Linked DNA regions of Homo sapiens. The protein of the gene in region 1 purifies or fractionates together with the protein of each later gene. This does not show direct contact. Each region holds a gene or a part of one and is shown on either strand. Other genes may lie near its edges.

Region 1 (4,208 bases):
TTTCCAAGACCATGGCTACAGAAGTTAAATGAAGAAGCAAACTGAGATTGCATGCTCAAAAAGTAAAATGTAACATTTTGCCTGGGTCTGATTGGTTGATTGATTTAGAGGACAGAACAGGCATATACAAAAGTTAGTCATGTAATCTTTTGCTCTTTAGGGACAGAAAACAAAATGGATTTTGAAAAATACAGCAAAGCTTTATATCAATGTAAGTGTACTACAGAGATAACAGGGTACTTTGAAGTCTGAGAGCCTGGAACTAAAATTTACTAGCTGTTACTCTTTTTTGGCAGTATGATCCAGTAGAGAGACTGATTTGAATCTTTGCAGCATCCCAGTTACTACTTATATGACCTTAGGCAAAGTTTCTTAGCCTCTCTGAGCCTGAACTTCCTCATCTGTAAAACAGTAATGATAACTATCTACTAAAGTTCGGTTAGGACAAAGACAGTCATCCACTCATGCATTCATTCAGCCATTTAAAGTATAGGAAAGCAATGGAAAGAAGATTAAATTGCTGCCCTAAGGGAACCCATAGTCTTAGAGGAGCAAACAAAATAGTAAATAGAAACAAATTAAGCTGCAAGTGCCCAGAGGTCAGTAGAGAACTAAGGAAGCAAAGAAGTAAGGTACACCTAATTTTGCCTAGAGGTTTAAGGGTTCATGTCCAGTTTCACCCTTGAAAAATATAAGAAAAGTTCACAAGACAGAAAGGGAAAGAAGGGCATTCCAAGCAAAGAGAAAGGCACCCCAACCCAATACAATTCTGCATGGTAACTAGTGCATAATATCTCCTTATTAAGAAGGGCTTCTTTTTTTTTTTTTTTTAATGAAAAACCCCAGGGTACAGTGGCTTAGGTCTGTAATCCTAGGAGGATCGCTTGAGCCCAAGAAATCAAGACCAGCCTGGGCAAAAAAAAGTGAGATCCCATCTCTATAAAAAGTAAAATTATTAGCCAGACATGACGGTGCATGCCTGTAGTCCCAGCTATCAGAGGCTGAGGTGGGAGGATTGATTGAGCCCGGGAGGTGGAGGCTGCAGTGAGCCATGATCGAGCCACTGCACTCCAGCCTGGGTAACAGAGTGAGATGCTGTCTCAAAAAAAAAAAAAATACAAATACAAATACTTGTACAAAAAAAAAAACAAGACTGGAAGAAAACATAAATTAACTGGTTTTTCTCTTTGAACATAAAAGAAAACATAAAAAATTAACTGGGTTTTCTCTTTTTGATGTCTACAATAACCTAAATCAAATGCTGTGTTTTAATGGTTGCTGAATTTGAAAGAGAAGTGAAAAACCGGGCAGGGGAAAAAAAAGAAAAAAAAGACAGCAGGCAGGCCTTTCCCTAGTTGCTCTTACAAAATGTTAAAACTTCCTATCACTCACCTTTGAAAATGCTAATCATTATGCATAGCATTTCTTTTTCTTTTTATTAGTTTTAAGATTTCCTCAAGAAAGAGACCACCAGAAGCGACCCTCCTAGGGTCAAGTATTCTCTGGCTTACACTGCCTCAAGAAAGCACTGAAAAGCACTATAACCTGAGGGCAGATGAAATTAAGACAAGGACAGGGGACCCACCCACATTCTAGTAGGTGCTCAGTAGAGAAAAGTCCAACAAAAGAACCCAGTACCAACTAGCAGATAAAATAAACCAAATATATATATCTATATATATCATGCTTCTAAAAAAAGTTAAGAAAACCACAAATAATTGAGACCCAGCTAACTATAAGACACAATGGCGGATACTAAGGGGCATGAGAAAACATCTTTTTTTTTTTTTTTTTTTTTTTGAGATGGAGTCTCACTCTGTCACCCAGGCTGGAGGGCAGTGGGCGAGATCTGGGCTCACTGCAACCTCCGCCCTCCAAATTCAATGGATTCTCCTGCCTCAGCCTCTGGAGTAGCTGGGATTACAGGCGCCTGCCACCGCGCCTAATTTTTTGTATTTTTAGTAGAGACAGGGTTTCACCATCTTGGCCAGGCTGGTCTTGAACTCCTGACCTCATGATCCACCCACCTAGGCCTCCCAAAGTGCTGGGATTACAGGCGTGAGCAACCGCGCCCGGACGAGAAAACATTTTAAACAGGGTAACTTAAAATACGAGAAATTAGGCCAGGTGTGGTGGCTCACACCTGTAATCCCAACATTTTGGGAGGCGTAGGTGGGCTGATCACTTGAGGTCAGGAATTCAAGACCAGCCTGACCAACATGGTGAAACCCCACGTCTACTAAAAATACAAAAAATTACGTGGGCATGGTGGTGCATGCCTGTAATCCCAGCTACTCTGGAAGCTAGGGCAGGAGAATGGCTTGAGCCCGGGAAGTGGAGGTTGCAGTGAGTGCCACTTCACTCCAGCCTGGGTCACAGAGCAAAACTCTGTCTCAAATAAATAAGTAAATAAATCTCAATAATATATAGAAAATAAATTCAGGATACAATCAGAAGGGTTGAGAATCCCTGCAATAAGACATATGAAAGACTCACAATAAAATTCCCATTTGTTTAAAAAAAAAAGTGAATACTACACCAGTGTTACACTGGCATTCATAAAAAATGCATATTACACTAAATATCTTTTGACATACATTCATGTTTGTGTTAACACAGAAACAGCTCACTCATTCTGAGTTCAATTCTGACACTAACATTTTAAATATTCTTTTTTTATAGTACTGTTTTATATGCCCCTTACTTTATAAAAATATTAAGGGCCAGGAATGGTGGCTCACGCCTGTAATCCCAACACTTTAGGAGGTTGAGGTGGGCGGATCACTGGAGGTCAGGAGTTCAAGACTAGCCTTGGCCAACACGGTGAAACTCCACCTCTACTGAAAATACAAAAATTACCCAGGTCTGGTGGCGCACGCCTATAATCCCAGCTACTTGGGAGGCTGAGGAAGGAGAATCACTTGTACCTGGGAGGCGGAGGTTGCAGTGAGCCAAGATCGCACCACTGCACTCCAGCCTGGGCGACAGAGCAAGACTCTCATCTTAAAAAAAAAAAAAAAAAAAAAAAAAATTAAAAATTAAGAAAATTAGGGGATGATATCTCATCGACTAAGAAAATATAACATCTGGGGTCATAGTTCTCCAGATTTCCATGCTGGCTATTCGGTCTCTCTATCCTAATTTTAAAATGTAGCGAACAATTCATTTGCACAGCATTTTACAATTAACAAAATGCATTCTTTCACATTTAACTCACTTGTTCCCCACAATAAATGGGAAATTTTCATTTTATAATTGAGGAAAGTCAATCTCTGAGAGCTTAAGTAATTTCCCTAGGGTCACTCAACAAGTAAAGGCTATATTCCATACTAAATATTAGGGTCTTTTCTACTACTCACAAAATCCCATGTAAGAAATGTCAAGCAGGCCAGGTGCGGTGGCTCACGCCTGTAATCTCAGCACTTTGGGAGGCCGAGGCAGGCAGATCACGAGGTCAGGAGATCGAGACCATCCTGGCTAACACGGAGAAACCCCGTCTCTGCTAAAAATACAAAAAATTAGCCGGGCGTAGCGGGCGCCTGTAGTCCCAGCTACTCAGGAGGCTGAGGCAGGAGAATGGCGTGAACCCGGGAGGCGGAGCTTGCAGTGAGCCGAGATTGCGCCACTGCCTTCCAGCCTGGGCGACAGCGCAAGACTCCATCTCAAAAAAAAAAAAAAAAAAAAAAAAGAAATGTCAAGCAAGGGCATCTCTAAATTATGACACAAACACTAAACTACCTTTTTAGAATACCATTTTGCTGCCTACCAAAAGGAAAGTGTTTATTAATCAATCAGTAATCAACATCAGTAGTAAAACAAAAACTAAAACACAGGAACTAAAACTAATATTCAAATGTGACAAAGATGCTCAGGACAAAATTTCATTAAGGCAAGTTCACTGAATCCAAAGTATTAGTCCCTAACACCAGCTCTCTTCACTTTCACAGTATCTCATTTGTACTGAGATACCAGTTATCCTAAGATTAATGATAAATCTCCAAAAGGATTTTAAATCATTGAAAGTACGTTCCTTAGAGCCCATCTGTGGAAAAAAAAATGCCAAGGATCAATCTAGACAAATCGCTAAAGCCAATATATTTCAGAGAGCGCGTGGTGGCTCAAGCAAGTCAGTAGTCAGGAGTAGTCAGGAATACCGATTTCCAGATATTGACCTCTCTCTGTCATAATACCTATCAGTTAGCATTATA
Region 2 (3,853 bases), on another chromosome or scaffold:
CTGAGTGGAGCTCCAGTCCCAGGGCCCTGGGGGGTGTCCACCTCAGGGAGCTGGGCAGCCTCCAGCTGTGGGTTCTCTGGTGTCTCGTCCAGGGTGGGCTTGGTCCTCGAGCTGGCGATGCCCAGAATGTAGCGCTGTGGGGGGCTGCCCTCTGCCCTGCCCGCCAGCCTTGAGGGAGCCTGCAAGGGGCTTCTCCCCGGTGGGGTCTGGGGGCTGCCCCTCTTCCCAGGGGTGCTGCTCGGGGCCTGGCCTCTCAGGGATGGGGGCTTGAGCTCCCCGTCCCTGGCCTGCCTTGGCTGGGCCTCGGGGAGCTCCATGGCCTGGGCCTGGCCGCCAGCCTCCCTGGCACCCTTGGTGGTCCTGGTAGCTGGGGTGTTGTCCTCCAGTGGCGGCTGGGAGGGGTGCCCCGGGCTGCTGGCAACTTGGCGGGGCTGCAGGTCTCCAGTCATGGTGGGGGGCGGCGCTCCTCGGGGGCGCTCCCCAGGCATGGCCCCTCCGTCCTGGCGCTAGGACGACGCAGCTGTCCGAGGGGGGCCCTGGGGAGTGGGCTGGACGGCCATCCTCAGCCCTCGATGGGCCCCAGGGAAGCCTGCGCTCATGGTCCTGAGTGGAGCCTGGAAGGAAAGGTCAGGGGTGAGTGGGGCAGAGGGGCTGGGTGGCCCTCGCCTAGACAGGGAGCTTCTAGGCTCTCCATGCGGGTGTGGCCGGGCCAGAAGCAGAAGAGGCTGCGTGCAGCCATCACAGAAGCTCCGCGCTTAGAAGGGATGCTCGGCTCAGCCCCTACCTAGAAGCAGGAAGGGAGAGGGCATCCCGCCAGATGGAACAGGGACCCTTCCCTGTCTTAGGGAGAAGAGGGGCGGTGGAGCGCAGAGATTGAGTGGAGGGGGAGGGAGGGGGAGCTTTCTGGGGTGTGAGGAGGCCGCTTACAGGCTCAGAGCAGTCCTCGGCCAGGCTGTGGAGAGGACAGGCACCTGTGTGGGGCACAAGCTCTCAGCCTGCAGGAACTGCCCCAGGGCAGGGTCCTGGCAGCGTCCAGGAGGGCCCAGGTGGATGCTTACACCTGCCATGGGGAGGGCCTTGAGGCAGGAGGCTGCGTTGCAGGACATAGGGGACTGAGGCAGCAGAGGCTCAACCTGAACCTCTCAGGGCCTGGGCGGCTGGTTCCAAGCGGGGACTCCCCTGCCGTCAGCCAGGGTCTCCCTGCCACCAGGCCTTACAGGGTAACCTCCAGATCCTGCCGTCAGCCAGGGTCTCCCTGCCACCAGGCCTTACAGGGTAACCTCCAGATCCTGCCGTCAGCCAGGGTCTCCCTGCCACCAGGCCTTACAGGGTAACCTCCAGATCCTGCTCCAGGAAGCCCCCAGCCTCCAGACGGTGCCGGCTCCCATTCTGGCACATGCCAGATGTAGCAGGAGCCGCTTGCCCAGAGGAGCCTGGCCCCTTGCTCACCCAGGGCTGGCTTCACACTCATCATGTCTGTTCTCATGTCATGACATACGGGACTGTCCTCTGTGCGGACAGGACTCAGACCCGAGCCATTGGCTGTGGCCACGAGGTGCGCAGGCCGCTCCGTGTGGGGGCCCCTTCTGACTTGCCCAGCAGGGACCGGGCGTCCTTTACACAGCAGAGTGAGGCAGGGCTCAGCCCTTGCAGGCATTGTCCTTGCCACTGACCCCTGGGTCCTCATGGCAGGCCCAGAGAGGCGGATGACTTGGCCAGGGTCACACAGCCAGCAGCAGAGCAGCTGGGAGCTGAAGGGACAGGCCTCAGGCCTGGAGCACTCTCAGAGACCCTGCTGCCTCTGTGGAGGCGGGGGCTGCCTCCTGAGGTCACAGGACCCTCCCACCGGCCTGAGCTGGTGGTGTCTCATGCCCCTCCCGGAGTTCCCGCACTACAGCCGCCTGGGGACTCCTAACGCAGAGGCTGGCAGGCCCTCTGTCCCCAGCACGAGGTTGGTACCTGTACTTCCGGCTGGCTCTTCCTGCTGTGCCCAGGGACTGCCTGCACCGGGGAGGAGGGTCCTGCCCAATTTGGGCCAAGGTCTCCAGGGTGGGCGAGGTCCCAGCCTGCAAACTCCACATCACACCACCAAAAAGAGTCATGCCAGCTGGGGGGCCCGGGTGCCCCTTCCTCCTCTGCCCCCACCACTGAGGTACCTCCTGTCCCATGACCCCGGGAGGAGGGCCCCTTTCCCTCTTCTGGGATCCACTGCCAGGGGGCAAAGGCCTGGGAGTCCTTGGGGCCAGGATTCACAGGTGAGGTTTGTTGAGTGAATAAATGATGCTGGGCGTCTGAGCACTTTCCTGAACTGCCTCCCTTGTGCTCACGGTGGCTCAGAGGTGATCTGTGATTGTCGCCCTGAATTTATGGGTGAGGAATCCAGGCACAGAGAGGTGGGGAACCCGCTCAAGGCCTCAGCCAGTGTAGGCGAGGTCCTCCTGGGAGGGCTGGCTCCTAGCCCTGCACATCTCCTGCCCTGCACATCTCCTGCCCTGCACATCTCCTGCCCTGCACTGGGCTTAGCCATGTCCCACATGGCCCAGACACCCACTGGGGCCAGGCTGCAGGGTTGGGGGTAGGAACAGCAACAGCCAGGCCCCACATGAAGCCCAGTCCCACATGTCAGACCCCCCTACCCATGGCCAGAGTCCTCCAGGAGGTGATGGAGGAGGAGGGGGCTCAGAGTGGGGACCTCAGCCCAGATGGAGCATCATAAAGGCCTCCTGGAGGAGGTGGCCTTTACGGAGTCCTGGATGGTGGGGAGGAGTGTTGAGAACACAGCTGTGCCCAGGGGCTTTGTCAAGGGAAGGAGCTGGTCTGATTTATCAAGGGAAGGAGTGAGGCCTGCTGGCTCAGCGGCTGCCATGAGGAACATCAGGTGACACGCCCGCCTGCTGGCTCAGAGCTGTGGCTGGAAGCCCTGCCCGGCGGGCCCCAGGAGTCGGCTCTCGGGAGGCAGTAGGCAGGCCCGGTTACTGTCCTGAGAGGGAGAGGAAGGCCGGGCGGGTGGGGGCGGAGGGGGCCTCAGGACCATCAAGACCAGAGCATCTGTGGCCAGCCTCGGTGCAGGCTGCTGCCTGTACATACCTGGGGAGTCGGGGGCCCCTCAGCTGGGTCGCCGCACAACTTCCTGAGGAATGAGAATTTCTTGGCTGCAAAGAAAATGGAAAGCATGTCAGGGCCGATGTGGTGCATGGCTCTGGACCAAGAGCCCGAGGAGAAGCCAGGTGGGAGGGAGCGGCTCCTGGGCAGAGCCGGCTGTGGCCTCAGGGCACCGGGAAGCCACCAAGAGCCACCGGGAGATGGGTGAGCTCCCCTCAGAGGCCAGCGGGCAGCTCAGCTGGCCCGGGGGACCCTGAAGGGTTTAGGGGTCACCTGGCTGCCTCAGCTGCAGCTTTGACGGCTATCTTAAATCTCTTTTTGTTGGGTCTTTATGTACGCATAGATTGTGTGTACATGCAGCTCCGAAGCTCCAGATTATTACGAGTTGCAGTGAGAACGCTGCCCCTCCCATCCCTGCCAGGATCCCTCCCCAGTCCCGCTGGGGAGACTAGAGGAGCTTCTGGTGTTTCCTCCCAGAGTCCCTGGATGCAAACACCAGCACACAGGAACACACACTGCCTTTCCTCCTTCCTTCAACAGAAGATCGTCGGCTACGCTCACTGTTCTGCACCTGACCTTTTTTTCATGTAACAACATATCCTGTAGATAATCCCACAACATTCCGTGAAGAGGTTTCTCACTCTCTGTCCACTCGTCCTCGCATCCAGGCTGCAGAGCACCCAGACCTGTCTGGATGGACACTGGGCTGCTGCCTGCATTCGGCCCTTAGAAACAATACAGCAATGGTCAC

The links. Proteins that work in one complex are often made in the same cells at the same time.
Region 2: the proteins of BRWD3 (region 1) and ZNF469 purify together in Homo sapiens (affinity purification with mass spectrometry, with the first as the bait; one large-scale study listed by BioGRID). This does not show direct contact.

What each region holds. Positions count from the first base shown.
Region 1 is NC_000023.11:80,799,438-80,803,645, forward strand, and holds part of BRWD3 (bromodomain and WD repeat-containing protein 3), read right to left. Parts: intron 1-4,208. UniProt on the Homo sapiens protein: Plays a role in the regulation of cell morphology and cytoskeletal organization. Required in the control of cell shape.
Region 2 is NC_000016.10:88,424,106-88,427,958, reverse strand, and holds part of ZNF469 (zinc finger protein 469), read right to left. Parts: exon of another isoform or gene 3,153-3,853; 5' UTR 3,088-3,152; exon of another isoform or gene 1,693-3,087; intron 615-1,692; 5' UTR 489-614; coding exon 1-488. UniProt on the Homo sapiens protein: May be involved in transcriptional regulation.